Homo sapiens: one gene and its partners. The protein of the gene in region 1 interacts with the protein of each later gene in a biochemical or structural test. Each region holds a gene or a part of one and is shown in the gene's direction. Other genes may lie near its edges. The genes, in order: TLR4, FGG, SIGLEC11 and MBL2.

Region 1 (7,909 bases):
TGTACCATTACTTTATTTGCCACTAAGAAAGAAAAAAAACTCTGCCAATTATAATTGTACTATATTGTCAATTATATGAGAACCATTCTGCTTTGAGAGGTGTTGACATGAAAAAAACATGAAACTTAAAAACTTGAGATGGTTGGATGGAATGAGGTTTGGTTTTTAGATATGTCAGGTTAATGGGACCTTTTTTAAAATCACTATGCAATGGAAATTATAGGATTCTAAGGTTGTGGCATAAATACAACCTGCTGATCAACAGAATTTTGTGTTCCTCTTCCACAGTATAGTATTGGTGCTGTGAAGTGGTGCTCACCATTAAGTGTGTGTGTGTGTTTAAGTTTTGGGTAGGGGGAAGAGCCTTGAAGCTTAGAAGATAGAGATCCCTTGCAACTTGGTATTGTGTTGGGTCTAGTTTTGGTCAAATGCAATGAGAGCAGAGATAATGCATGTCACTTCTGAGCAGAGGTAGTTAAATACATGATATCATCCCCTACTTTCTTCACATTCTGCAGTAAACTTGGAGGCTGCATGTTGAATATGAAAGTATAATGAAATAAAAGAAGCCTAGAACCAGGAATCATACCTGGGGTAATCCAATCAGAAATATCCTCATTGAGTGTTTCATGAGCCAGGAAAACTTTTATTAAGTCACAATAAAATCTGGAAGTTTATACAGCAATTAGCTTAGTCTAACACTTGTCAGTTTTGTGCATATTTCTTACAGCATATGCATTACCTGCCAAATAAAAGCAAACACTTCTAGGTCCCTGGCAAATATGGGATTCCTCCATTGACTGACTGATTATGGGTCCTGAGTTGAACTTGCTCTGCATGAAGGATGTAGGCGATCAAGTGGCTTGTTTTGCCTCTGGCCAAATCTCTACCACTATGCTTAAGATGCGATTAATTATGTACAACAAACCCCCATGACACACGTTTACCTATGTAACAAACCTGCTCATCCTGCACATGTACTTCTGAATGTAAAAATAAAAGTAAAAAAAAAGAAAACAAGAGGTGGTTATTATTCTACTGTGGGAGAAATTATAGGCCTAATGGTAACTAATCACCACGGTCTTACCTCATTATAATACTGCATCGGTAAGTTCATCAACATAAGCAAGTTAGATCTGATAACCAAGGGGCTTACAGTTTCTAATTTGTATTTGACACATGGTCTGCCTTCTGGAAGAGCAACATAGAACCTAGATGTCTTTGATTAAGGTCAGTAAATGATTGAGTGTTAATCCCATTCATTTCCCAGGAAAAGGAAACCTCTTTACAAGTCACCACCAGGGATTCTCCAATCACACATAGGAAAAATTTCCAGGAAGACTTCTATAAAACACATGTATTAACATCTCCGAAAACATAGTTGAAAGGACTTCCCTGGGCCCTTTTCCTTAGTTCCTCATCTAGACTATCAAGCGGTTTCCTCTCCAAATGATGGGAAGAAAGTGCATTTGTCTATTACACACTTGTATTACTCTATTCACTTAAGCACTGTGTCCCAGTAATGGGGTCTAGTTATGTCTGGCTTGAAATGACCCACATATTTGTTTCTCATTCTTAGGAAGTGGAGTGTTTCTGTATGTGTATATGTGATGGGGGTAGGCCAGGAGATTTTTTATCTAGGCAATACCCAGCCTGAAATCATTATTAGCATGACATGAGTTAAACGTATTTCTATTTTAGAAAGATGTTTTCAACAGCAGGATGAAGAATCAATTGGAAGAGCTGGTACATTGAAAGAGGTGAATCTAGACTTTGGGAGGCTTCTTAAAGTATATTGAACTAGTCTAGGCCGTGGGATATGTTCAATAGTAATGGTAGTAGAAATGGCGACTGACATTTTGGAATTATTTTACAGATACAATTTCTACAACTTGGTGGAACATTTTTTAAAATGTAGGTTTTATTATTCGGCTATGGTGAAAACAACAGATCAGAAGATGATGCCACTGGAAATATAGTTTGTTGTTTACAGTTCCTAAGAAGCGGGGGCATGCCACACCATGCAGGGCCACATTGGTAGCACCAGAGTCCGTCAGGAGGCAGAGGGAGCAAGAGGAAATTATAGGCACAAGCTTTTATTGTTGTTACTGCAGAAAAGGCAAGGCAAGGCAGGGTAAGCAGGGATAGGACTGGCTAGTTTGAATAACCTCAGTGGGCTCTGGGGTAGAGGGTCTGTCTCTAGTTGTCTGGTACCTGGACCTGTGATGATTAGGGCTGAATAACGGTGTCTACTTGGGTGTAAAAGCCAGGTAGAGGAGGTGGTTCAGAGGAAGGGCTCTGGATTGCTTAGTGTGCATAAGGCATGCTCCAGAGCAAATCTTTTGCTATTTTTTAGAACTAACTAGCCCTGGTAAGTGCAGTCTCTTCCCAGATGCCAGAACATCAAGAACACAGAAAAGAAGACAATTGGGTTAATACATGTTTAGCATGAGAAATGAGGAAGTAAGGGAAATAAAGTCAAAGAGATTTCCACCTTGGATGACTATGTCAAAGTGAAACACCATTAACTTTCCAGGGAACTAAACTTTATTGAGCACCTACTCTGTGTCAGGCACTGCTCTAAAATCTTTACATGAATAATCTCAATACTCAGAGCAAAGCTTTGACATGGAGGTTGTTTTTATCTTAACTCTACTGGTGTGTTGATGGAGTCTACAAGAGTTTGTGCCCAGTCCACCACAAAATGGTCCCTCACAGCTTGGTTTTTGACACGTTGGATTGGAAGTGCTTGGAGGATATTACAGTAGAACTATCTAGGACTTAGCATGCATAATATTCCTGTTTTAAATCAGGTTCTTATTTAACAGAAACTTACATTGCACTTGCTACTTTCCAGACACTGTCCTAAAAGCTTTACAAATGCCAGTTCATTTAATCCCAATACAATACTTTGAGATACATATTATCATCTTCATTCTATCCACATTTTCAATCCTCATCATAGCTCTCATTTATGGAATGTAATGATGATGCTCTAGACTAGACGTTTTACGTAAGTTAGCTTAATTCAGTAATTCAAAACACATGCGATTATCTTCGTTTTAAAGACCAGAAAACTAAAGGTTGGTAGGTTTGTATAATTTGACTACCATTGCGTATCTTTATTTTAATACATTTTATAAATGCAAGCTTCTGCTATGATTAAAAGTGATTACCACATTTTACAGACCAGAAAGTAATAATAAGTGTTGGTGAAGATGTGAAAAAATGAGAACTCCTGTACACCATTTGTGGGAATGTAAAATGGTACAGATGCTGTGGAGAATCATATGGTGGGTGCTCAAAAAATTAAAAATAGATTTACCACATGATCCAGCAATCTCACTTCTGAGTACGTATCCAAAAGAATTGAAAACAGAGACTTTAAGAGATATTTGTACAACCATGTTTATGGCAGCATTATTCACAATAGCTAACGTGTGGCAACAATGCAAGTGTCCATGAACAGACAAATGGATAAGCAAAATGTGGTCTATACATACAATGGAATATTGTTCAGCTTTAAAAAGGAAGGAGGCTTTGATCTATACTACACAGAAAAGAACCTTGAGGACATTATGCAAAGTGAAATAAGCCAGTGACAAAAAGATACATACTGTATGATTCCACTTCTAAGAGCTGCCTAGAGTAGTCAAGATTATAGAGACAAAAGTAGTGCATAGATTCAAGGGCCTAGGGAAAGGGGAAATGGGGAGTTATTTATTAATGAATAGTGGTGATGATTGTACAAAAATATGAACATAATTAATGCCACTAAATTGTACACATACAAATGGTCAAGATAATAAATTTTATGTTATGTCATGTTATGTTATGTGATTTTACCATAATACAGAAAATGAAAAAAGAAAAGAAAGAAAGTAAAGCTTAGCGGTTTACATGACTTGACCAATGCCTCAAAGCCATGAGTCACCCAGCTGAGATCTGAACTTCAGTATATTCCATTCTGAAATCCCAGACTTTTCCCAATCTTCTTGTACTTTTCAAACTGTGTTTCAGTTGAGGTTTATTTTCAGTTTTGTATGTGAGTTTCTTCACAAGAAGGGGCGGGCCAAATTGTGTCCTGCAAAAACCTACATATCGAAGTCCTAACCCCTCTACCTCAGACTATGACTGTATATGGAGAGAGAGCCTTGAAAGAGGTATGTAAGGTAGAATGAGGTCATTATGGTGGGCCCTAATCCAACATAACTGGTGTCCTTATAAGAAGGGGAGATTAGAATTCAGACACACTTGCTGACACCTTGAGTTCAGACTGGAAGCCTCTAGAATTGTGAGAAAATGAATGTCTGTTGTTTAAGCCACCCAGTCTGTGGTATTTCCTTATGGCAGCCCCAGCAAACTAATACAAATAGTGTTTCCACAGCTGAAACAAAATTGGAAAATCACCGTCATCCTAGAGAGTTACAAGGGCTATTTTAATAGAACCTGATTGTTTTCCTAAATTCACCAAGCCCAGGCAGAGGTCAGATGACTAATTGGGATAAAAGCCAACTAGCTTCCTCTTGCTGTTTCTTTAGCCACTGGTCTGCAGGCGTTTTCTTCTTCTAACTTCCTCTCCTGTGACAAAAGAGATAACTATTAGAGAAACAAAAGTCCAGAATGCTAAGGTTGCCGCTTTCACTTCCTCTCACCCTTTAGCCCAGAACTGCTTTGAATACACCAATTGCTGTGGGGCGGCTCGAGGAAGAGAAGACACCAGTGCCTCAGAAACTGCTCGGTCAGACGGTGATAGCGAGCCACGCATTCACAGGGCCACTGCTGCTCACAGAAGCAGTGAGGATGATGCCAGGATGATGTCTGCCTCGCGCCTGGCTGGGACTCTGATCCCAGCCATGGCCTTCCTCTCCTGCGTGAGACCAGAAAGCTGGGAGCCCTGCGTGGAGGTATGTGGCTGGAGTCAGCTCCTCTGAACTTTCCCTCACTTCTGCCCAGAACTTCTCACTGTGTGCCCTGGTTTGTTTATTTTTGCAAAAAAAAAAAAGAGTTAAATTACCTTAAAGACTCAAGAAGCCACAGAGATCAAATAATTCATTGTTACAGGGCACTAGAGGCAGCCATTGGGGGTTTGTTCCATTTGGAAATTTTGAGTGCTAACAGGGGCATGAGATAACATAGATCTGCTTAAGGTCCCTGCTCTGCTACCTTGTGGCTCTGTGAAGAAATTATCAAACCTGTCTGAGACTAGTTTTCGCATCTGTAAGAGAATTATAATACCTTCTTCACTAGAGAGTAAGCAGACTGCTTCAGTGTCATTTCTTCCCACTGGTGGTCTTTACACTCAGCTTCAAGCAGTCACCCTGCTCCTTTCAATCTCAGGAAAAAGATGGCTTTTGTGTGTGTGTCTCTAGAGAAAGAACTTTCTAAGTGGGTGTCAGACTTCTGTATGCAGTAATATAGTTTAGTCCAGAGGATGAAAAAAATAAGAGAATGAAAAAGGAAAAGAGAGAGAGAGAGAAGAAAAAAGCAAGAGGGAAATATGTATAATGTCAGCTAATGCAACAGTTTCTTTCTTAGTGAAATACCAATCAGCTGGTTGGTAATCTTATTCATGATGGATCTCTTTTGTTTTTCCCCTGCGCAGACTTCACAGTTGCTTTAGAAACCCATAGTAGAGCCGAACAGCTAAGAAAATGATTTACAGTGAGGCAGGGTCAGAAACTCAAGAGAGAAAAAGCCAGCTGCAGTCCTGAAGTTGAGGATATAGGAGAAAATCAAGTAATATTTAGCAAAGACTAATTCATTATCTTGAAGCCATCCCTTCCCTCAATTCCCTGCCCATAGTCCTCCTCCTTGTCCTCTTCTCTGTATCCCTCTGCTGTTAGGTTAATGGAGATAGATTTTCTAATTAGGCTCACTGCGAGATAAAACCACAGCCAAACTTGACTTCTTTTCCCCATGTACCTTTTCCTGTCAGTCCCTGAAGCCTGTCCATCCCTGCCCATCCCCTTAGTTCCACTGTAAGGCAGGCCCTCATTTCCCCTGGCATTGACTCTTACACACTAACTGCTTTCCTGATTCCAGTCTTCTTCCTTTAATTCATTCTGCACGTTCTTGTTTGTTATGTACTTGCATTTGTTGTTATTATTTTTCCTTAGGCTTCAATCTAACAAATTACTCTCCTTAAAAACTTTTAATAACTCTCCATTGCCATTAGAACAGCTTTCTACCACAGGGCCTTTGCACTGGCTATTTCTTCTACCTAGAATGCTAGATCAGTGCTATCCATTGGCAATATTATGTGAGCCACATATGTACTTTTAAAGTTTTTAGTAGCCTCATTAAAAAAAGAAACAAGTGAATTTAATTTCGATAATAGTTTTATTTAACTTAGCGTATTTAAAATAATGTTTAAAATTTTAATATATATTTACCTATTATTGATATTTTTACATTCCTTGTTTGGTACTAAGTCTGGAATTTAGTATATGTTTTACATTTACCACACTTCTCAATTTACACTATTCACATTTCTTGTGTTTGATAACTGTGTATGGCTAGTGACTACCGTATTGGTCAGTGCAGCCCAAGTCCTTTTCATGCTTTAATCACTCCATTCAGATCTCTGATTAAATGTCCCCTCCTCAGGGCAGTCTTCCTTGATTGCCCCATGTAGAGCTCTCCAGCCTCACTTATTTGCCTCAAATCCCCTTATACTGCTTAATATTTTTTTTTCTAGAGCACAACATTTTATATTTTTGTTTGTTTATTTTCTCTCTCTCCCTTTGTAATGGAATCGGTAAGGAGGCAGGATCATTGCTGGTTTTATTTACCACTATATTTCCAGTGGCCAGCACACAGTAGCCGCTAGATGTGTAAGTGATAAATGATTGAAATAATTGCTGCAGGACAAAGTCTGAGGCCCTCCTGATCTGGCTTGCCCTCTTACTTAGATTTCACCACTCCCACCACTCACCAGCTAATCTGAGTTTGTTTTCCACTCTTTACGTGCTCACGTTGTCCTCTCCTTAGGACATGTTTTTCTTCCCCTTTCCACATATCTAAACCTTACTCATCTTCCAAGACCCACTTTAAAATCTTCCTTTTCTGGGAAGCCTTTCCTGAATCCAGACTTGATCTCTGCTTTCTCTGAACCACAGGGCATATTTTCTAAGCCTATTTTATGGCCCCTTGAGATAGTGTTAGCTTTGCTCCTATCTAAACTCTTACTCTAGACTGTGAGTCCATTGAAGTCTGGAGCTGCATCATATTTTTCTTTGTAATGCCCACAGCACTTGGCAGGAAATGCCTACAATTTGGACTTAAGTAAACCTTCATTTAATCAGTTATTCAATCAGTTAGTGATTCAGCAAATATTTATTGAGCACCAACCATTTGCCAGACACCATTCTGAGTGCTGGAGACAAAGCAGTGGGCAAACCCATCAAACTTGCAATGGAATACAGGAGATGAACAATACGATGAGAACAATCAGATAGACAACATAATGTTAGATGGTTGTGCTTCCCGTGAAAGGGAATAAAAGAGGGCAAAGAAAGAGTGCCTGGCACTGTTTCTATTAGACAATATTGTCTTTGAGGCTCCATGGCTTGCAACATTTAAGCAGACATACGAATGAAGATCTGCATGTTTGAACTCTGACTTTGCGCATATTACTTCATTTCTTTGAATTTCCATTTTCCTCATCTTTAAATGCTTATTTGAAGATTAAGTGAAAGTATATAACAAACAAGAACTATGCAGGCATATGGTAAGGGATTAATGATAGATGATAATAATTAATGTTGACATCTATTGATCACTTATACTGTAGCGGGCTTTTAAATAAACTCTTTAAACACCTTATCTCATTTAATCCTTCAAACATTCTATTGGTTTCAAACAACAGAAAACTACAATTAGCTGGCTTCTGCAAGGAATTTTGTTG
Region 2 (7,983 bases), on another chromosome or scaffold:
CATTCTTGTGAATATAACTTGGCCCCTTGGTTGGTGGTGGTTTATTTTTCCCCCCAAACTCATTTGCTCTTGTAAATCTCCTGCTAATCATATTTAGTCATGAAAATTCTTTCATGGGGTGAGAGATTTAAAATCGTAGATTACACAAAGATGGAAAAACACAAACAAACCAGTAGCAGATACCAATGTGGCACAGCAAAACACTTAAATCCAACTTCTCTGTTCAATTTGTCTCAATCCAGGGCACCTCAGATCATTCCTTAGTCTCAAACTAGTATTAAAAATGGCTAATTTCCAGCCTCTTTGGCCTCTGTAATTGCCAATGGGATAATCCTTCTTTCTCTAGGCACCCAGTACTTTATTTCCTAAATTCCAATCACAGCAGAGATTTTTCAACATCCCTGCCGCTAGGACAGATCCCCCAAATGACACATGTAATGAAACTTTATGAAGTTAAGAAGTGCAAAACTCAACCTGTGGGTGCTGTTCTGCTGCCAGTGAGGGAGTCCATTTTACTTGTGCCCAATGTTGTTTTTGTCTTTGATTTACATAGTGAAACTAAAAGCACATTGTTCACAGACTACCAAGAAACTTTTGCGTTTTCACTTTCCCTGGGCTATTTTTATACACAAAGCAAATATTCTAACAGACAACTCTGTTGCCCTTAATGGGATATTTTTACTATTAGGTTGGACTGGCTTTCAGTATGCCAATAGGTCATTTTCTTTCTGCCAGTTTTTAGGAAATCCAGTTCTGAGGGTTCAGGCTATAAATTTAGCTTAGATCTAGAAATGGTTTACTTGTTAGAAAAACAGATATATCATTGTCGCCATTGATTTGAGCTTCCTTGACCACGCAGTGGCTGTCTCTCCCTTTAACTTACTGATGGAATTCAATTTATCAAGTCCTATTAAACTTGAACCATGCAGTTAGCATTGAAAAACTGCTTCCATCTAAAATTGGACTGAAGCCAGGTGCATTGGCACGTGCCCATAGTCCGAGCTACTCAGGAGGCTGAGGCAAGAGGATCACTTGGGCCCAGCAGTTCAGTTTGAGGCCAGACTGAGCAACAAAGCTAGGCTGCATCTCTAAAGAGAGAGAAAAAAAAAAAAGGACCATAAACACAAGCTAATCATAAAACAACACAAATCTAGGTTTGAGAAATACTCAAAGACTGTAAAAGATCATTCACAAAATCTTGTCTCTAACCCAGAGAAGAAGATAGATAAGTTGGTAGATAGATGTAAATGTGTGTTCAAATAATCATGCACACAGTTATGTAGATGCACACACACATCTTTAAAATCCATTCTATCAGTGAATAACTTTGAGTCTCATAACACCTTGTATCTGTGTATTATTTTAAATTAAGAAGGGCTTCATGGTTGTATTAAGATTCATGGTTAAGAGCACAGGCATTGGGCCCCATGGGTTTGAGTTCCTGTTCTGGCACACTGACCCTGCATATGTTACACAACATCTCTAGGCCTTTCTTTTTTCATTATAAGATACAGGTAATTATATCTACTTCCTAGGCTTGTGGTGAGGATTAAATGAGAGAATATACATGACAACAAAAACTATACTACCACATAATATCTAGCATAAAGAAGATGCTCAAAATTGGTAGTTCTTTCTATTATTCCTTAGGGCTATATCATTTGTCACTAGGTCAAGAAGTCTTCTACATAATCAAATTTAAATTCAGCAAATAATTTTGGAGCAAAGATGAATGTAACAGACTTGGCTCACAGAGTAAATTACCAATATACACGAAGACTGTTAGCTGTAGATTTGTGTTTTCAAATCAGAACACAAACGGTTGGACGATAGGGAATTTGGGACATTATTATTTCAATAAACAAGCCCACTGACCTCAGAGTTACAGTAAATGATTATTTTGGCTTAAATACTACCTATGCTATTATCTCAAAAAACATACCTGGAAGTAGAAGAACTGTGATTTAAGAAACATTCTTCATTCCTGGAATTCATCAATCATTTATCATTTTTCAAAGAAAAAATTGGCCCAAACATGAAAAAACTAGTTAAAATTTAATAAACCTAAGTGATACTAGATTGAATGCAGGGCCAATGTAGACCGCTAAATCACTGTTGACCATTTTTTTTTCTCAGAGAGCAAGCATCTTGTCTTATATGATTTGGATTTAGGACTTGAGATTGTAGTAAAAGGAAATTATTTTCTCTAAAATTGTGATAACACATCTGGATTCCAATATAAGTCAGTTAAAAGCCTGTAATACAAGTATTCCACTTCTAAAATGGGATAAGATAGAATTTCTAATGTCCTCAATTTAAATGTTTATCAACTTTGTGAATATTATATATCTTAACACAACCAATGAAACTTTATGACATTAAGGAGCTCAGAACCCAACCTGTGGCTGCATGAATTGTTACCCTAAATTCAACAAACTAATATTTTATGGTCTTCAGCAAAAAGAACCACAAAGACATGCTCTGTCTAAACACACTTTGCTTGAACATTCTTACAGATAGGAAGTATACCTTCTCACAAGGCATGCAATCCATTTATATTATCATTTGATCTTTGATTGGTAAAATCAATTTGGATAGAATTTCCTAAACTAAACGACCAGGTGCTTTCTTCTCTGGGGAATCTTACAGAAGGAGACTGCAGTTAGTTGCAACAGATTTTTTATTAAAGAGAATTTCTGTAGCTAGAACAACAAAGCTTGTTCCCTGTGAACCAAATCTACCAATAATAGCTCTATTAAAAGAGTTTCCTATTTACATAGATTTTATACCAAATATATTTGGTAATTCATAAACCTTACAAACATTTACTTAACACTTACCATGAATTGGGTAATGTGCTCAACACATTATCCCACTAAATCTTAGTAATAGCCCTATTAAGTAAATACCATATCATAAGTATTATCTCTCTTTTACTGACATGGATAATGGAACTCAAGGAGATTGAGTAACTTGTACTGAATCACACAGCCAGTAAATTGTAAAGATGGGACTCAAACCTAGGGAGATGGACTCCAGAGCCTTAACAACTATTTATTTATACATTCTCCAATTGAGCTACACACTTCTTGAAGGCAAAGGCAATGCCTGAGTCACCTTTCATGTTCAAATCATATTAAAAAGTTAGCAAGATGTAATTATCAGTGTACTATGTAAATCTTTGTGAATGATCAATAATTACATATTTTCATTATATATATTTTAGTAGATAATATTTATATACATTCAACATTCTAAATATAGAAAGTTTACAGAGAAAAATAAAGCCTTTTTTTCCAATCCTGTCCTCCACCTCTGCATCCCATTCTTCTTCACAGAGGCAACTGATTCAAGTCATTACATAGTTATTGAGTGTTAACTACAACTATGTTAAGTACAGCTATATATGTTAGATGCCGTAGCCACAGAAATCAGTTTACAATCTAATGCAGTGGATACAGCATGTATACATATAATATAAGGTTGCTACAAATGCTATCTGAGGTAGAGCTGTTTGAAAGAATACTAATACTTAAATGTTTAATTCAACTGACTTGATTGACAACTGATTAGCTGAGTGGAAAAGATGGATGAGAAAGATTGTGAGACTTAATTGGCTGGTGGTATGGTGATATGATTGACAATAACTGCTAAGTCAGAGAGGGATATATTAAGGAGGAGAAGAAAAGCAACAAATCTGGTTTTGATGTGTTCACTTTGTTATAATTATTGATTATTTACTGAATATGAATATTTATCTTTGTTTTTGAGTCAATAAATATACCTTTGTAAAGACAGAATTAAAGTATTAGTATTTCTTTCAAACTGGAGGCATTTCTCCCACTAACATATTTCATCAAAACTTATAATAAGCTTGGTTCCAGAGGAAGAAATGAGGGATAACCAAAAATAGAGACATTAATAATAGTGTAACGCCCAGTGATAAATCTCAATAGGCAGTGATGACAGACATGTTTTCCCAAACACAAGGATGCTGTAAGGGCCAAACAGAAATGATGGCCCCTCCCCAGCACCTCATTTTGCCCCTTCCTTCAGCTATGCCTCTACTCTCCTTAGATACAAGGGAGGTGGATTTTTCTCTTCTCTGAGATAGCTTGATGGAACCACAGGAACAATGAAGTGGGCTCCTGGCTCTTTTCTCTGTGGCAGATGGGGTGCCATGCCCACCTTCAGACAAAGGGAAGATTGAGCTCAAAAGCTCCCTGAGAAGTGAGAGCCTATGAACATGGTTGACACAGAGGGACAGGAATGTATTTCCAGGGTCATTCATTCCTGGGAATAGTGAACTGGGACATGGGGGAAGTCAGTCTCCTCCTGCCACAGCCACAGATTAAAAATAATAATGTTAACTGATCCCTAGGCTAAAATAATAGTGTTAACTGATCCCTAAGCTAAGAAAGTTCTTTTGGTAATTCAGGTGATGGCAGCAGGACCCATCTTAAGGATAGACTAGGTTTGCTTAGTTCGAGGTCATATCTGTTTGCTCTCAGCCATGTACTGGAAGAAGTTGCATCACACAGCCTCCAGGACTGCCCTCCTCCTCACAGCAATGGATAATGCTTCACTAGCCTTTGCAGATAATTTTGGATCAGAGAAAAAACCTTGAGCTGGGCCAAAAAGGAGGAGCTTCAACCTGTGTGCAAAATCTGGGAACCTGACAGTATAGGTTGGGGGCCAGGATGAGGAAAAAGGAACGGGAAAGACCTGCCCACCCTTCTGGTAAGGAGGCCCCGTGATCAGCTCCAGCCATTTGCAGTCCTGGCTATCCCAGGAGCTTACATAAAGGGACAATTGGAGCCTGAGAGGTGACAGTGCTGACACTACAAGGCTCGGAGCTCCGGGCACTCAGACATCATGAGTTGGTCCTTGCACCCCCGGAATTTAATTCTCTACTTCTATGCTCTTTTATTTCTCTCTTCAACATGTGTAGCAGTAAGTGTGCTCTTCACAAAACGTTGTTTAAAATGGAAAGCTGGAAAATAAAACAGATAATAAACTAGTGAAATTTCTGTATTTTTTCTCTTTTAGTATGTTGCTACCAGAGACAACTGCTGCATCTTAGATGAAAGATTCGTAAGTAGTTTTTATGTTTCTCCCTTTGTGTGTGAACTGGAGAGGGGCAGAGGAATAGAAATAATTCCCTCATAAATATCATCTGGCACTTGTAACTTTTTAAAAACATAGTCTAGGTTTTACCTATTTTTCTTAATAGATTTTAAGAGTAGCATCTGTCTACATTTTTAATCACTGTTATATTTTCAGGGTAGTTATTGTCCAACTACCTGTGGCATTGCAGATTTCCTGTCTACTTATCAAACCAAAGTAGACAAGGATCTACAGTCTTTGGAAGACATCTTACATCAAGTTGAAAACAAAACATCAGAAGTCAAACAGCTGATAAAAGCAATCCAACTCACTTATAATCCTGATGAATCATCAAAACCAAGTGAGAAAATAAAGACTACTGACCAAAAAATAATAATAATAATCTGTGAAGTTCTTTTGCTGTTGTTTTAGTTGTTCTATTTGCTTAAGGATTTTTATGTCTCTGATCCTATATTACAGATATGATAGACGCTGCTACTTTGAAGTCCAGGAAAATGTTAGAAGAAATTATGAAATATGAAGCATCGATTTTAACACATGACTCAAGTATTCGGTAAGGATTTTTGTTTTAATTTGCTCTGCAAGACTGATTTAGTTTTTATTTAATATTCTATACTTGAGTGAAAGTAATTTTTAATGTGTTTTCCCCATTTATAATATCCCAGTGACATTATGCCTGATTATGTTGAGCATAGTAGAGATAGAAGTTTTTAGTGCAATATAAATTATACTGGGTTATAATTGCTTATTAATAATCACATTGAAGAAAGATGTTCTAGATGTCTTCAAATGCTAGTTTGACCATATTTATCAAAAATTTTTTCCCCATCCCCCATTTATCTTACAACATAAAATCAATCTCATAGGAATTTGGGTGTTGAAAATAAAATCCTCTTTATAAAAATGCTGACAAATTGGTGGTTAAAAAAATTAGCAAGCAGAGGCATAGTAAGGATTTTGGCTCCTAAAGTAAATTATATTGAATGTGGAGCAGGAAGAAACATGTCTTGAGAGACTAAGTGTGGCAAATATTGCAAAGCTCATATTGATCATTGCAGAATGAACCTGCATAGTCTCTTCCCTTCATTTGGAAGTGAATGTCTCTGTTAAAGCTTCTCAGGGACTCATAAACTTTCTGAACATAAGGTCTCAGATACAGTTTTAATATTTTTCCCCAATTTTTTTTTCTGAATTTTTCTCAAAGCAGCTTGAGAAATTGAGATAAATAGTAGCTAGGGAGAAGTGGCCCAGGAAAGATTTCTCCTCTTTTTGCTATCAGAGGGCCCTTGTTATTATTGTTATTATTATTACTTGCATTATTATTGTCCATCATTGAAGTTGAAGGAGGTTATTGTACAGAAATTGCCTAAGACAAGGTAGAGGGAAAACGTGGACAAATAGTTTGTCTACCCTTTTTTACTTCAAAGAAAGAACGGTTTATGCATTGTAGACAGTTTTCTATCATTTTTGGATATTTGCAAGCCACCCTGTAAGTAACTACAAAAGGAGGGTTTTTACTTCCCCCAGTCCATTCCCAAAGCTATGTAACCAGAAGCATTAAAGAAGAAAGGGGAAGTATCTGTTGTTTTATTTTACATACAATAACGTTCCAGATCATGTCCCTGTGTAAGTTATATTTTAGATTGAAGCTTATATGTATAGCCTCAGTAGATCCACAAGTGAAAGGTATACTCCTTCAGCACATGTGAATTACTGAACTGAGCTTTTCCTGCTTCTAAAGCATCAGGGGGTGTTCCTATTAACCAGTCCCGCCACTCTTGCAGGTTGCTATCTGCTGTCCCTTATGCATAAAGTAAAAAGCAAAATGTCAATGACATTTGCTTATTGACAAGGACTTTGTTATTTGTGTTGGGAGTTGAGACAATATGCCCCATTCTAAGTAAAAAGATTCAGGTCCACATTGTATTCCTGTTTTAATTGATTTTTTGATTTGTTTTTCTTTTTCAAAAAGTTTATAATTTTAATTCATGTTAATTTAGTAATATAATTTTACATTTTCCTCAAGAATGGAATAATTTATCAGAAAGCACTTCTTAAGAAAATACTTAGCAGTTTCCAAAGAAAATATAAAATTACTCTTCTGAAAGGAATACTTATTTTTGTCTTCTTATTTTTGTTATCTTATGTTTCTGTTTGTAGATATTTGCAGGAAATATATAATTCAAATAATCAAAAGATTGTTAACCTGAAAGAGAAGGTAGCCCAGCTTGAAGCACAGTGCCAGGAACCTTGCAAAGACACGGTGCAAATCCATGATATCACTGGGAAAGGTAACTGATGAAGGTTATATTGGGATTAGGTTCATCAAAGTAAGTAATGTAAAGGAGAAAGTATGTACTGGAAAGTATAGGAATAGTTTAGAAAGTGGCTACCCATTAAGTCTAAGAATTTCAGTTGTCTAGACCTTTCTTGAATAGCTAAAAAAAACAGTTTAAAAGGAATGCTGATGTGAAAAGTAAGAAAATTATTCTTGGAAAATGAATAGTTTACTACATGTTAAAAGCTATTTTTCAAGGCTGGCACAGTCTTACCTGCATTTCAAACCACAGTAAAAGTCGATTCTCCTTCTCTAGATTGTCAAGACATTGCCAATAAGGGAGCTAAACAGAGCGGGCTTTACTTTATTAAACCTCTGAAAGCTAACCAGCAATTCTTAGTCTACTGTGAAATCGATGGGTCTGGAAATGGATGGACTGTGTTTCAGAAGGTAATTTTTTCCCCACCATGTGTATTTAATAAATTCCTACATTGTTTCTGCCATATGGCAGATACTTTTCTAAGCACCTTGTGAACCGTAGCTCATTTAATCCTTGCAATAGCCCTAAGAGGAAGGTA
Region 3 (7,337 bases), on another chromosome or scaffold:
ACCTCCTGACTTCACGATCCACCCGCCTTGGCCTCCCAAAGTGCTGGAATTACAGGCGTGAGCCACCACACCCGGCCTCTTTTTTTTCTTTGTCTTTTTTTTGTTTTTTTTTTGAGACGGAGTCTTGCTCTGTCACTCAGGCTGGAGTGCAGTGGCACGATCTCGGCTCACTGCAAGCTCCGCCTCCTGGGTTCACGCCATTCTCCTGCCTCAGCCTCCCGAGTAGCTGGGATTACAGGTGCCCGCCGCCACGCCTGGCTAATTTTTTTGTATTTTTAGTAGAGACAGGGTTTCACTGTGTTAGCCAGGATGGTCTCGATCTCCTGACCTCGTGATCCACCCGCCTCAGCCTCCCAAAGTGCTGGGATTACAGGCGTGAGCCACCGCACCGGCCAGCCACAACTGTTTTCTACCCAGAGACACGTCCCCACTAACCTGAAGCCTTAATGATTCAACCCAGTGAATAAAATACTGGGGAAAAAAATAAATTAATTTAAAAGTGCACACCACAGTGGAACAAGGTAAGCTTCAAAAGACCTCTGCCATTCCAACCCCACAGGAGATGATGAACTTGATCACCATCTTACTGAGCACATTGCCACTGCAGCCAGCAACTGAGAAGCCAGCGCACAAGGACTCTCTACAACCAAGGAACTCATACAGAACCTTCATCCCTGAAAGCACCAAGACCTGAATTAAGCGCCAATAAACTATAAACATTAAAATCAGGCTGGATGTGGTGGCTCATGCCTGTAATCCCAGCACTTTGGGAGGTTGAGGTGGGCAGATTACTTGAGGTCAGGAGTCCGAGACCAGCCTGGCCAACATGGTAAAACCTCGTCTCTACTAAAAATACAAAAATTAGCCAGGCCTGGTGGCACACATCTGTCATCCCAGCTACCTGGGAGGCAGAGGTTGCAGTGAGCCAAGATCGTGCCACTGCACTCCAGCCTGGATGAAAGAGCGAGATGCAAGACTCTGTCTCAAAAAAAAAAAACATCAAAAATCAATCCTTGGCCAGGCGCAGTGGCTCATGCCTGTAATCCCAGCACCTTGGGAGGCCAGGGTAGGTGGATCACTTGAGGTAAGGAGTTCGAGACCAGCCTGGCCAACATGGTGAAAATCCATCTCTATTAAAAATACAAAAATTAGGCCAGGCGCAGTGGGTCACGACTGTAATCCCAACACTTTGGGAGGCCGGGGCGGGAGGATCACGAGGTCAGGAGTTCAAGACCAGCCTGACCAGCATGGTGAAACGTCATCTCTACTAAAAATACAAAAAACAAGCCAGGCATGGTGGCGGGCACCTGTAGTCCCAGCTACTCGGGAGGCTGAGGCAGGAGAATTGCTTGAACCTGGCAGGTGGAGGTTGCAGTGAGCCGAGGTCATGCTACTGCACTCCAGCCTGGGCGACAGAGTGAGACTCTGTCTCAAAAAAAAAAAAAAAAATTCAACTCAATATGGATCAAAGACTTAAATCTAAGTCCTGAAACCAAAAAATTCTAGAAGATAACCTAGGAAAAACTCTTCAGGACATTGGTCTAGGCAGCGGTATGTATACCATTGTCATGGAATATTACTCAGCCATAAAAAAAGAATGAAATAATATCTTTTGCAGCAACTCGGACAGAGCTGGAGGCCATATTTCTAAGTGAAATAACTCAGGAATGAAAAATCAAATGCCATTATGTTCTCACTTTTAAGTGGGAGCTAAGCTATGGATACATAAAGGCATACAGAGATCATGGACTATGATCTCATGGAGGCAGAGAGTAGAATAATAGTTATCGGAACCCTAGAAGGATGCATGGGTGAGTAGGTGGGGAATGAAGAGGTCTGTCTAACAAATATACGGTTATATAGAAGGAATAGTTCTTATGTTTAATAGCAGAGTAGGGTGACTATAGTTAACAGTAACATATTGTAGTGGTGGCTCATGCCTGTAATCCCAACAATTTGGGAGGCTGAGACAGGCAGATCGCTTGAGCCTAGGAGTTTGAGACCAGCCTGATCAACATGGTAAAACTCCATCTCTATCAAAAACAAAGTATAAAAATTAAGTGGTAGTGCACACCTGTAGTCCCAGCTGCTCGGGAGGCTGAAGTGGGAGGATTGCTTGAGCTTGGGGAGGTCAAAGCTGCAGTGAGCCGTGATCTCACCACTGCACTCCAGCCTGGGTGACAGACAGACCCTGTCTTTTTTTTCTTTTTTTTCTTTTTTTTTGAGATGGAGTCTCTCTCTGTTGCCCAGGCTGGAGTGCAGTGGTGCAATCTCAGCTCACTGCAAGCTCCACCTCCCGGGTTCACGCCATTCTCCCACCTCAGCCTCCTGAGTAGCTGGGACTGTAGGCACGTGCCACCATGCCCAGCTAATTTTTTGTATTTTTAATAGAGATGGGGTTTCACCGTGTTAGCCAGGATGGTCTTGATCTCCTGACCTTGTGATCCACCCGCCTTGGCCTCCCAAAGTGCTGGGATTACAGGCGTGAGCCACAGTGCCCAGCCTGAGTGACCCTGTCTTAAAAAATAATAATAACGTATTGTATTTTTCAAAATAACTAGAAAAGATGATTTGAAATGTTCCCAACAATAGAAATAATAAATGTTTGAGGTGACAGATATTCAAATACCCTGACTTGATTATACCATATTCTATGCATGGCACAAAATATCACATATACCCCATAAATATGTACAAATATCACATATTAATAAAAATACTTTTTAAAAATCAACAAGGCAGGGCTGGGCGCAGTGGCTCACGCCTGTAATCCCAGGATGTTGGGACTCCGAGGCAGGTGGATCACCTGAGGTCAGAAGTTCAAGATCAGCCTAGTCAACATGGTGAAACCCCATCTCTACTAAATATACAAAAAATTAGCTGGGCATGGTGGTGGGCACCAGTAATCCCAGCTACTCAGGGGGCTGAGGCAGGAGAATCGCTTGAACCTGAGAGGTGGAGGTTTTAGTGAGCCGAGATCATGCCATTGTGCTCCAGCCTGGGCAACAAGAGCAAAACTTCATCTAAAAAAAAAAAAATCAACAAGCCAGACACAGTGGCTCACGCCTACAATGCCAGCATTTTGGGAGGCTGAGGCAGGCAGATCACCTGAGGTCAGGAGTTCGAGACTAGGCTGCTCAACATGATGAAACCCCATCTCTACTAAAAATACAAAAAATTATCCGGGCATGGTGGTGGGTGGGTGCCTGTAGTCCCAGCTACTCGGGAGGCTGAGGCAGCAGAATCACTTGACCTTGGGAGGCGGAGGTTGCAGTGAGCCAAGATTGCACCACTGCCCTCCAGCCTGGGTGACAGAGTGAGACTGTCTCAAAAATAAAAATAAAATGGCCAGGCGCAGTGGCTTATGCCTGTAATCCCAGCACTTTGGGAGGCCAAGGTGGGCGGATCACAAGGTCAGGAGATCGAGACCATCCTGGCTAACACGCTAAAACCCTGTCTCTACTAAAAATACAAGAAAAAAATTAGCCGGGCGTTGGGGTGGACGCCTGTAGTCCCAGCTACTCAGGAGGCTGAGGCAGGAGAATGGTGTGAACCCGGGAGGTGGAGCTTGCAGTGAGCTGAGATCCCACCACTGCACTGTAGCCTGGGGAACAGAGCGAGACTCCATCTCAAAAAAATAATAATAATAAAATAAAAATAAATAAATAAAAATCAACAAAGGAGAAAGGTTCATAGGACAGGATCCAGAAGAGACCATATGTGGGATTCCAGTTGTCCTTTCCCAGTGAAGTCATACAGAAAGCGCTTAATGCTTGAAGCAAAGATGAGTGACAACATACAGCAAGTATTGCCACCCAGGGAAGCTCACCTGAGCCTCGGCATTCAGAGTTTTTACTGGGGGTTGGTCACGTAGATGCAGCTGACTGCCTGTGTGGCTGACCTAGTTTTTACCCTCTGTGGAGATACAGCAATAATACGTGGTGCAAAGCCCCCACCATAAATCACTGTGTTCTTGTAGACTCTTCCAGTGTCTCATGGCCCCCTGGAGAATGAATGAATGAATGAGACTCTGCATCCATCACCTCACCTGCAGCCGTGACTCACCTGTGTCCCCTGACAGTCCCCTCCTAGCACTGCCCACCTCCGAGGCTGGCCAGGGTGGCTCCTTCCTGGTTTGGGGCTGGTCCTCATGCCCTCTGCCCTGCTGCTTCCCCTGTGAAAGGAGAAGTTGGGAAGCGAGCTTTCAGGACATAGCGGTTCCCGAGGCTCCTCCTCTGTGGATGGTCACTGCCCCTCCACCAGGCTTCCTGCTGGAGGAGTTTCCTTCCCAGCCAGGCCGGCCCAGAAGCCAGATGGTCCCGGGACAGGCCCAGCCCCAGAGCCCAGAGATGCTGCTGCTGCCCCTGCTGCTGCCCGTGCTGGGGGCGGGTGAGTGGGTCGGTGGCTGGGGGTCCCAGGCAGGGGCTGGGGCTGCCGCTGAGCCTCTGCATCTCCCCAGGGTCCCTGAACAAGGATCCCAGTTACAGTCTTCAAGTGCAGAGGCAGGTGCCGGTGCCGGAGGGCCTGTGTGTCATCGTGTCTTGCAACCTCTCCTACCCCCGGGATGGCTGGGACGAGTCTACTGCTGCTTATGGCTACTGGTTCAAAGGACGGACCAGCCCAAAGACGGGTGCTCCTGTGGCCACTAACAACCAGAGTCGAGAGGTGGAAATGAGCACCCGGGACCGATTCCAGCTCACTGGGGATCCCGGCAAAGGGAGCTGCTCCTTGGTGATCAGAGACGCGCAGAGGGAGGATGAGGCATGGTACTTCTTTCGGGTGGAGAGAGGAAGCCGTGTGAGACATAGTTTCCTGAGCAATGCGTTCTTTCTAAAAGTAACAGGTATGGAATGGGGTGGGAACCCCTGCCTGTCACACTGGGGAGGGACCCTGGGGACAGGCTATGGGCTGAGCAGAGAGGGCTCTCAGGGACCCCTGCAGCACAAGAATCTCCCACCCGGTCTCTGTCCCAGCCCTGACTAAGAAGCCTGATGTCTACATCCCCGAGACCCTGGAGCCCGGGCAGCCGGTGACGGTCATCTGTGTGTTTAACTGGGCTTTCAAGAAATGTCCAGCCCCTTCTTTCTCCTGGACGGGGGCTGCCCTCTCCCCTAGAAGAACCAGACCAAGCACCTCCCACTTCTCAGTGCTCAGCTTCACGCCCAGCCCCCAGGACCACGACACCGACCTCACCTGCCATGTGGACTTCTCCAGAAAGGGTGTGAGCGCACAGAGGACCGTCCGACTCCGTGTGGCCTGTGAGTGTGGCCTGGGAGGGTGGGGCGTGCAGACAGCCCCGGTGGGTGGGGAGGTGGAGGAGCCCAGCGGGACAGTGAGTGGCTCCCAGCTCAGGAGCATCCAGGGAGAGGAAGCTGTGGGGTCCCAGGATGCCGGCTCAGCCCTGGGAGGGGGATGGGAATGGCGTCTGATCCTCTGTCCACATGTGTGAGCCCTGGAGCTGGTTGTCACTTGTCCATCCTGGGATGTTCCCACTTTCTTTTCCCTGAGGGAGTTTTTTCCAGGTGTGAGGAACAAATTGTCCCTCCCTGAAGCCAGCTCACAATCTTGTTGCAGATGCCCCCAAAGACCTTATTATCAGCATTTCACATGACAACACGTCAGGTACTGAGGGCCTTCGGGCTGGGGCTGGGCCAGTCCTCTTTAGGGATGAAAAGGCTTCAGGGGGGTGAGGGGATGTGGTCCTCTTTGCAGCCCCCCCTCCCACCCATTCTCTCTCTCCACCCCCACCCTCTCTCTTTCCCTGTCTTCAGCCCTGGAACTCCAGGGAAACGTCATATATCTGGAAGTTCAGAAAGGCCAGTTCCTGCGGCTCCTCTGTGCTGCTGACAGCCAGCCCCCTGCCACGCTGAGCTGGGTCCTGCAGGACAGAGTCCTCTCCTCGTCCCACCCCTGGGGCCCCAGAACCCTGGGGCTGGAGCTGCGTGGGGTAAGGGCCGGGGATTCAGGGCGCTACACCTGCCGAGCGGAGAACAGGCTTGGCTCCCAGCAGCAAGCCCTGGACCTCTCTGTGCAGTGTGAGTGTGCCTAGCAGGGGCCTGGAGTCCATTGGGAGGGCAGAGGGATACAGGGGCTGGGCTCAGGGTCCCAGAGCTGAGGGGGTCTTGAACCCCAGGCCTCGGGGACTGACCTTCTTACCTGTGTAGACCCTCATGCAGTTTGTGTCTGGGACTCAGTGGGTGATTCTGCCCTGCCCTTCTATCCCACCCACTTCCCCCACCTCAGTGTCCAGGATAGTTCCCTTTACCCAGAGGGAAGCCCCTGGTCTGTCTAGAGCCGGTCCCCTGTCTCCATTTCAGATCCTCCAGAGAACCTGAGAGTGATGGTTTCCCAAGCAAACAGGACAGGTAGGAAAGGAGACAGAGGAGCCAGGGCCTCTCAGTGCCAAACTGGGGGCCCAGGAGTCTGGAGGGTCCCCACACAGGAGGGTCCCTGAGCCCTGAGCTGCACGTCGATTCTGCCTCTTCCTTCCCTAGTCCTGGAAAACCTCGGGAACGGCACATCCCTCCCGGTCCTGGAGGGCCAAAGCCTGCGCCTGGTCTGTGTCACCCACAGCAGCCCCCCAGCCAGGCTGAGCTGGACCCGGTGGGGACAGACCGTGGGCCCCTCCCAGCCCTCAGACCCCGGGGTCCTGGAGCTGCCACCCATTCAAATGGAGCACGAAGGAGAGTTCACCTGCCACGCTCAGCACCCTCTGGGCTCCCAGCACGTCTCTCTCAGCCTCTCCGTGCACTGTGAGTGGGGGAAAGGGGACACCTGGGTCCCAGGAAGGGGCCCCTGCTGAGTCCTGTCCTCCCTCCCCACAGACCCTCCACAGCTGCTGGGCCCCTCCTGCTCCTGGGAGGCTGAGGGTCTGCACTGCAGCTGCTCCTCCCAGGCCAGCCCGGCCCCCTCTCTGCGCTGGTGGCTTGGGGAGGAGCTGCTGGAGGGGAACAGCAGTCAGGGCTCCTTCGAGGTCACCCCCAGCTCAGCCGGGCCCTGGGCCAACAGCTCCCTGAGCCTCCATGGAGGGCTCAGCTCCGGCCTCAGGCTCCGCTGTAAGGCCTGGAACGTCCACGGGGCCCAGAGTGGCTCTGTCTTCCAGCTGCTACCAGGTGAGGGGACTGTGGGGGGCTGAGGTTCAGGGAGAAAGGAGACAGGATCCTAGAAAGATGAAGGTTCAAGGTTGTGGGGAGAGGGTGTGGGCGTGGTGGGAAGGGATGGGGACAAAGTCCCTGCTCTGTGGCTGGTAGTTGTTGCGGGAAACTGAGGAACGGAGAGAGCAATATGGAGAACAGGAGGATTGTTTATTTAAGGTAAGTTCCAGCTTAGTGGATTTA
Region 4 (7,627 bases), on another chromosome or scaffold:
TATTTTAAATTACTGGTATTCCTTTCCAATAATTTTGCAGCCAGTAGTGTGTGCTTCTGGTCCTTATCTTTCCATTGTGCTGATCGTGCCCCTCTCAGCCTGCTCTTTATCTTAGCAGTGAGCAACCTCCTTTTGGGGGTGTAGCCTGTCTGGTCACCTCTGACACATGCTGCTCTAGGTCACCAGGTGAGCCAAAGCAGAGGCAGAGAATGGGCCTGGACAAGAAGTGTCCCTGGCCCCAGAAACCTATCAATGATGGTCACCCACTAGGAAATTCTTGTTTTTTTTTTTTAGAGAGGGAAGCTGCCCCAGAGGGAGGACGCTGGTGGAAGGAATATACCAGGCCTGGGAGTGAAGGGGCAGAAGGAAGAATGGCAGTAAGGAATGTCTGAGGAGAGTCTGAAAGCCACATGTGTTCTGATTTCTGTGGCAAAAGAGCAGGTCTTTGCTATCCTAACTACTGAGCTGCCTTTCACTGCAGCCACCCTGTGTTCAAGGCCATGTCACAGATAAGCATGTCTCTATCACATGGGCAGATATGACACCCTCTGACCACCCACCCCATGGCTATAGGGGCCTAAGGTAGTCCTTGCCAGATGCAGTGCGCCTGTGTATTTGTGTTGGTTAAAAAGAAGGCCTGTGACATTTACACATTCTCAGAGAGTTCATGAGCAAAAACAAGCAAAGAAAAAATAGCAGGACTGGAACACAGGACAGTACAGGATGAAAAGTATGGGAAGGTCAGGCCTTAGGGTTACAAAGGACACTGCTGACAACAAGAAAGCAGCCTACCGCTGTCAGCTGTCTCTCACAGCCTGTCTCTCATGGCCAGACCATGGTATTCCCTGCTGACCCTAAACACTTCCACAGAATACCGGTGTACAACAATATTACTCTGTTGTGAGATCCCAAATCATTCCAAAATCATGTCTTCATATAGACAGAAAAGGTTGCTCTGTGAACCACAAAAACGAAAAACATGCCCCTCTCCTGCTTAATATAAACATCTGCCACTCTTTTACAAAATACAGCTTCGCCTTGCTCTGTTCTACTTATCTCCTAAATAAAAGTTAAGATGCACAATCACAGAATTGCCCAGCTTACGGACAGCACCCTATCCAGAACAGACTCCTGCTTCTTAAACCCCTTCCCCCAAAACCAACTAAAACAAAACAAGTCTTATAGAAATCCCCTCCCGACACCCTGTTACTGAGAAATCCTAGGGTACACCATTGTGCTCAATATCCCTGTTGGAACAAACAGTTAAAAGAAACTAAAAATAATAAATCCATTTTATCTGACTATAAGCATATTCCTGATGGTCCTCACTTGGAGAGCAATAACATTCTCATTGCTATTGTCCTACTCACAGCAGCTCTGTGGAAAAGGGAATGAGGTTCAAAATCTGATTTGAAAGATGTAAAACTGAGGTTCGGCCAGAATATGGGGTCTATCTAAGCTCATATTCATGAGACAAAACCAAGCCTTCTGGTTTCCAATCTCAAACCATGCCTCTCACATGGAGCCACCCAAGAACACTGCTTCCCAAGCTGAGAAGACTCTTGAACAGTCACCCTGGAGGGAATGAAGGCCTTTCTTAAGCAGGCTGTCATGGTGAGCCACGTGCCATGCACTCTGAATGTGGACCAGTTAAGGACACACCACTCCACAGCCAAGGCAGCGGTGCCCTCTTTCCCAGACGAGGAAACTGAGGACATGAAGGCAGTGGAACTTGAATAAGGTCACACTGTTGGGAAGTGGGAGAGCTGGGATTTCACCCTAGTCTACAAAAAAGGGGATGTAGGGCACCAGGCAGTCCTCCTGCAGGTCAGAGAGGCAGTTTTCTCTGCAGCCTCTTGGGGTGAGGTGGATTTGTTGTGGCGCTGCCAGAATGGAAGCAGTGTTAGGAAAGTGGAAAGTTTTTTTTTTTTTTAGACGGAGAGGCTCTGTCGCCCAGGCTGGAGCGCAGTGGTGCAATCTCAGCTCACTGCAAGCTCCGCCTCCCGGGCTCACTCCATTCTCCTGCCTCAGCCTCCTGGGTAGCTGGGATTACAGGCACCCGCCACCACGCCCGGCTAGTTTGTTGTTTTTTTTTTTTTTGTATTTTTTAGTAGAGATGGGGTTTCACTGTGTTAGCCAGGATGGTCTCAATCTCCTGACCTCATGATCCGCCCGCCTCGGCCTCCCAAGGTGCTGGGATTACAGGAGTGAGCCACCACGCCTGGCTGGGAAGGGTTTTAAAGTCCAGAACAAATGCACACAGTGGCCTTATCTATGGGGTGGAGTGCAGAGTGGGCATTCGTGTGGAGAGAGACATTCAGGCTGCGGCATGTGGAGAGTGGCCTCTCCTTTTGGGAAAGGCCTTCTGGAGAGCAGGATGTAACTGGGTGACACTCCAATCTCCGGATCAATTGCTAGATTGACTTTCCCCCAGATACCCACACCCTCTGAACCCAGTTCTAGGAAATTTCAGGGTCTGGAGAGCAGTTTCCTGACCTCTGGACTAGGTAAACAATGAAAGCAAGCACTGTGATTAAAGCCAGCACCGCCAGTGACCTGGAGTCAACTACCTCACCTCACCTTCTGCCACTGGAGCAGGAGCAGGGGGAAGCTCTGGCTGCTAAAGAATAAGAAGGGAAACAAGTCTTCTCAGGCCCTGTCTTCTTTAGGCCCTGGATCTCCTGATATCCACTGATGGCTTTAGGCATGTGGCTCTGTACCATCCTGGACATTTTTCCAGGCACAGCAGACAGGTCAGCAGGAAGTAAGGAAGCCAGTCCCTCCACAAGCCAAGAAGACTTCAATTGGAAGGGACCTGGAAATGCATCTTACTCACATTTCTTTTGGTGTTTGGAGGCCTCCATAGTACCCCCACCACATGGCCCCGCAGCCTCTGAACTTCTCAGGATGGGCTCCCCAACACCCCAAGCTACATGGCATTTTTCTGAAAGCCATATCAGTAATGTAGTTGAGAATCAAATGAACTATGTTCGTAAAAGTATTCTTCCATCCCTTCTAGATTGTCCCCATTAACCACAGCAAGATGGTTCAAGCCATTAACACACACGATACCCATGATCTTATAGTGCCAAGTGCTGTTCTTTTGCTTCTTATCTCAGTTGAGTGGCTCCTAGATAGTCAAGTCATAAATGTGTGTGCCCATGAAAACTTCTTATTATCACTCACTATTCTAGCTAATTCTCAAGTGCAATCAATACCTCCTGTTTCTCAAGTGTGCCTACCTTCTTAATCTAGCTGCCATTACCCTGACCCAGGCCACTGTCTTCTGCTGCTTAGATCATGGCAAGCACTTCCTTTTAGATCTGCTTTTCTCCAGTCCTGTTCCCCTCAACATCATAGCCAGAACAAGCCTTGCAAAATTCAAATGTGATCACCTCTCCACTACTGCAGTCCCTCTAGTGCCCCCTGGAAGGAAACCCAAAGTCTTTAACACAGTTTACAATTCTTGTTATGAGGATGAAATTTGAAGACATTGTGCTAAGTGAAATAAGCCAGATACAAGGGGGCTATTGTATGATTTCACATATATGAGGTACCTAGGATAGATGAATTCAGAGAGACAGAAAGTAAAACAGAAGTTACCAGTGGCTGTGGGTAGGGGTAAATGGAGAATTCTAGTTTAATGAGTTGAGAGTTTCAGTTTGGGATGATGAAAATCATCCCATGATGTGGTGATGATAGCACAACCGTGTGAATGTACTTAATGCTACTGAGTTGTGTGCTTAATAATAATGGTCAAAATGGTAAATTTTATGTCTATTTTACCACAATGAAAAACTGGAAAAGTAAAGTCAATGACTATAATATCATAAAGTGTAAGTAACATGAGAGAAAATAATTCAGGCTAAGAGGATAGAGACTGCTAGGTAGGACTATTTTAGAATAAGTGATCAAGGTACTGATTTCTCTGAAATTGGAATATTTGAATAGAAGAGAAAGAGCTAGCTGGCGATGCCCGTAAGGGGTCCAGGCATGGAGACATCAAATGAAGAGTCTGAGGCAGGAATGGCCTTAATGCATTAATGGCAGCAAGAGGTCTATGTGGTTTCATGGATGGGTGTGTGCGTGCATGCACGTGTCTGTGTGTATAGTTGGTGTGCATGAGCATGTGTATGCATTTGTGAGTATCTTTGTTTTTCTGTTGGAAACAAGGATGTCAACAGGACTAACTAGGTGAACCTAGCTGTGGTAGTTCAGCAATGAGATTTGCCAAAATGGATGGCAATTGAAAGAGGAATTGTGCTGTATTAAAGCAGACAGCTGCCGAGCACTGTATTGGAGGCTCCTAAATTTCTCATAGTTCTGAGAAGAGCTGTTTATTAATCTGGAGTTGAAGGCCAGGCCCAGGATATCCTTGTTCACAAGGTTGATTGGGCCCTACATTGCTGAGCCCAGCCTCCTCCCTCACTCTGAGGCATCTGCCAGAGCCCCAGGCTAGAGGGCCAGCGTCCTTGTCACTGAGTCCCTGCTCTGCAGAAACACCAGTAAGTCATTTCTGGTGAATAAATCTGGGTTTCCGGATCAAGGGTTTGGGGAGCTGACATGACCCTGGAGGCATGGAGGAGGCTTTCTAGGGGTGGGGGGAGTGGGATGGAAAGCAGAAATCAGGTTGAGGATGTCTCTTTTTCTGCTTGTGCTGGAGCATCTGTGACTTTCCTCCATTATCTGTTCATCTGCAGTGGAGACTGTCTTTGTTTTCAAAGGGAAACTTGGAGGCTTAGACCTATGGGGCTAGGCTGCTGAGGTTTCTTAGGGGGCAATAGCTGGAAGAAAGCTCTGAAGAACAAATGAAAGGTTAATACTGAGAAATGGGAGGAGGATTCAAGGCAAGTTTTCTAATTGCCAGTGGTTTTTGACTCACAGAACATGGGGAATTCCTGCCAGAAAGTAGAGAGGTATTTAGCACTCTGCCAGGGCCAACGTAGTAAGAAATTTCCAGAGAAAATGCTTACCCAGGCAAGCCTGTCTAAAACACCAAGGGGAAGCAAACTCCAGTTAATTCTGGGCTGGGTTGGTGACTAAGGTTGAGGTTGATCTGAGGTTGAGACCTTCCTCTTTGGATCACCAGCTTTCAGCTCAGGGCCTGCCAATGAGTAAATGATAGTTAACAGGTCCTGGAGGGGAATCAGCTGCCCAGATACAAAGATGGGATTCAGGTGGCAGATGGACCCGAAGAGGACATGGAGAGAAAGAGGAAGCTCCTACAGACACCTGGGTTTCCACTCATTCTCATTCCCTAAGCTAACAGGCATAAGCCAGCTGGCAATGCACGGTCCCATTTGTTCTCACTGCCACCGAAAGCATGTTTATAGTCTTCCAGCAGCAACGCCAGGTGTCTAGGCACAGATGAACCCCTCCTTAGGATCCCCACTGCTCATCATAGTGCCTACCTTTGTTAAAGTACTAGTCACGCAGTGTCACAAGGAATGTTTACTTTTCCAAATCCCCAGCTAGAGGCCAGGGATGGGTCATCTATTTCTATATAGCCTGCACCCAGATTGTAGGACAGAGGGCATGCTCGGTAAATATGTGTTCATTAACTGAGATTAACCTTCCCTGAGTTTTCTCACACCAAGGTGAGGACCATGTCCCTGTTTCCATCACTCCCTCTCCTTCTCCTGAGTATGGTGGCAGCGTCTTACTCAGAAACTGTGACCTGTGAGGATGCCCAAAAGACCTGCCCTGCAGTGATTGCCTGTAGCTCTCCAGGCATCAACGGCTTCCCAGGCAAAGATGGGCGTGATGGCACCAAGGGAGAAAAGGGGGAACCAGGTACGTGTTGGGCTGTTCTGTCTCTGCAATTCTTTACCTTCCAGAGGAAACTGCCTGGGGATATGAGGAGACTGATGTCCTATTTGAGTATATTTTTCTCAACTATACTGTAACTCAAAACAGAGATTCAGCTCTCATTCTCTGGCATCTCAGAATTCCACACAGCAGTTTGTGACTAATAGTTGTCTTGCCAGCCCAGGAAAGTGGCCCACAGGTCAGGCCATCCCGTGGGACACAGGATGAATTTTTCTTCTCTGGGTCATTGTCATGTCAGACCCCTATTCACTTCAGTAGGGATGGCACCAGGTTCAAGAGGCCAAAGAAGAGATGGAGTCAGCAAACAAACATAGGTTTTACTGGGGGAATCTGTTTACAGGGAGATCCAGCAGCAGTGGGCTGGACAGGAGAACAACAACTACTGGTAAAAACAAATGCAGTTAATTTTCACTTTGCACCCTCCCTGCAGCAACCTCCACGTGGCAACTTTATTTCTTAAGTTATTGCTCTCAGGTGCCCACCATACAGTTATTGAGAGCAGTGCTCAGAAAGGTCAGTCCTGGGTCAAGGTCTCCTTTCTCCTGAGAAGGGATTGGGCATCAAACTCTTGAAGAGAGAGAGCAAGAACATAGATATTAAGTCACATTTCCTTTGTCTTCCAACAGGCCAAGGGCTCAGAGGCTTACAGGGCCCCCCTGGAAAGTTGGGGCCTCCAGGAAATCCAGGGCCTTCTGGGTCACCAGGACCAAAGGGCCAAAAAGGAGACCCTGGAAAAAGTCCGGGTAAGGACCCCAGCAAGGTCTGAGCTGACTTCACCCAGGGTTCTGAGACCTTGAGTATCTGGTAAGAGGTGCCCCTTCTCCTGTTCCTTCAAAGGAAGATACCCAAATTTGCTTTCTGACCCAGTGCCCTCAGCCCTCTCTTCATTCTTAGAGCCTTAGGGAATTCCTATAAGTGCCTGAGTACAGACTTACAAACTTTTCAAGACAACTCCCTCATCAGGCACTCCCTGTAAGAGCTGAGCCTGGATTCTCCATCAGCTGAAACAGTCTAATGTGAGGCCCTGGTCCTAGAGGGAGAAAACAGGCCATCTAAGTGTGGGCTTATTATACCTATTTTTACAAAAGCATGTAACCATGGTATGTCATATTTTACTTCATAAGAAACCAAGCCAAAGCTTAATAGCTTAAAAACATAGCCGTCAATTTAAATCACAAGTCTGTGGGTCGGCCATGTGATTTCTCTGCTGGTTTAAGCTGGGCTTACCCACATGTCTGTGGTCAACTGATGGCCAATAGTCTCACTCATGTGTCTGGCTGTTGTCTGAATGTTAGCTGGAGTGATGAGGGTAATTGAACCACATCTCTCATCATCCAACAGGGCTTGTTCACATAGCAGTGATTACAGGATTCCCAAGAGTAGAAATAAGATAGGCTTTAGGCTTCTTGAAGACTCAGAGCACATTATCATTTCTGTCAGACTGTATTGGTCAAAACAAGTCACAAGGCCAGCCCAGATTCAAGGAGTGGGGTAATAGACTCATGTCTTAATGCGAGGAGCTGTACCCTATTGAGGCCATTTTTGCCATCTACTACAACAAGTGATTTGCTCATGCCCTCCCCACTTGGATAATGGGCAACTCACAAAAATCTTGGTTTCCTGACTAACAGAACAAACCTGGAAAAAACAAAAACAAAACAAAAGACATCAAAAGCAAAACCTCTCCAAAGACAAAAACTCTGCAATCTTTTTCGTCACTCTTCACCAGGTCATAATAGAGTAACGCCTCAAGAGATTTCTTTTTAGTTTTGATAGAACAATTTATTTGAAAAAAAAA

The links.
Region 2: the proteins of TLR4 (region 1) and FGG form a complex in vitro, tested with the Homo sapiens proteins (one study listed by IntAct).
Region 3: the proteins of TLR4 (region 1) and SIGLEC11 form a complex in vitro, tested with the Homo sapiens proteins (one study listed by IntAct).
Region 4: the proteins of TLR4 (region 1) and MBL2 form a complex in vitro, tested with the Homo sapiens proteins (one study listed by IntAct).

Annotation. Positions count from the first base shown.
Region 1 is NC_000009.12:117,699,659-117,707,567, forward strand, and holds the start of TLR4 (toll-like receptor 4 isoform A precursor), read left to right. Parts: upstream 1-4,744; 5' UTR 4,745-4,814; coding exon 4,815-4,907; intron 4,908-7,909.
Region 2 is NC_000004.12:154,609,502-154,617,484, reverse strand, and holds the start of FGG (fibrinogen gamma chain isoform gamma-B precursor), read left to right. Parts: upstream 1-4,828; 5' UTR 4,829-4,875; coding exon 4,876-4,953; intron 4,954-5,049; coding exon 5,050-5,094; intron 5,095-5,283; coding exon 5,284-5,467; intron 5,468-5,586; coding exon 5,587-5,680; intron 5,681-7,287; coding exon 7,288-7,418; intron 7,419-7,721; coding exon 7,722-7,855; intron 7,856-7,983. UniProt on the Homo sapiens protein: Together with fibrinogen alpha (FGA) and fibrinogen beta (FGB), polymerizes to form an insoluble fibrin matrix. Has a major function in hemostasis as one of the primary components of blood clots.
Region 3 is NC_000019.10:49,958,058-49,965,394, reverse strand, and holds the start of SIGLEC11 (sialic acid-binding Ig-like lectin 11 isoform 1 precursor), read left to right. Parts: upstream 1-4,222; 5' UTR 4,223-4,241; coding exon of another isoform or gene 4,242-4,313; coding exon 4,314-4,389; intron 4,390-4,459; coding exon 4,460-4,843; intron 4,844-4,973; coding exon 4,974-5,258; intron 5,259-5,574; coding exon 5,575-5,622; intron 5,623-5,771; coding exon 5,772-6,035; intron 6,036-6,317; coding exon 6,318-6,365; intron 6,366-6,494; coding exon 6,495-6,752; intron 6,753-6,824; coding exon 6,825-7,112; intron 7,113-7,337. UniProt on the Homo sapiens protein: Putative adhesion molecule that mediates sialic-acid dependent binding to cells. Preferentially binds to alpha-2,8-linked sialic acid. The sialic acid recognition site may be masked by cis interactions with sialic acids on the same cell surface.
Region 4 is NC_000010.11:52,769,615-52,777,241, reverse strand, and holds the start of MBL2 (mannose-binding protein C precursor), read left to right. Parts: upstream 1-4,457; 5' UTR 4,458-4,505; intron 4,506-5,582; exon of another isoform or gene 5,583-5,597; 5' UTR 5,598-5,606; coding exon 5,607-5,793; intron 5,794-6,455; coding exon 6,456-6,572; intron 6,573-7,627. UniProt on the Homo sapiens protein: Calcium-dependent lectin involved in innate immune defense. Binds mannose, fucose and N-acetylglucosamine on different microorganisms and activates the lectin complement pathway.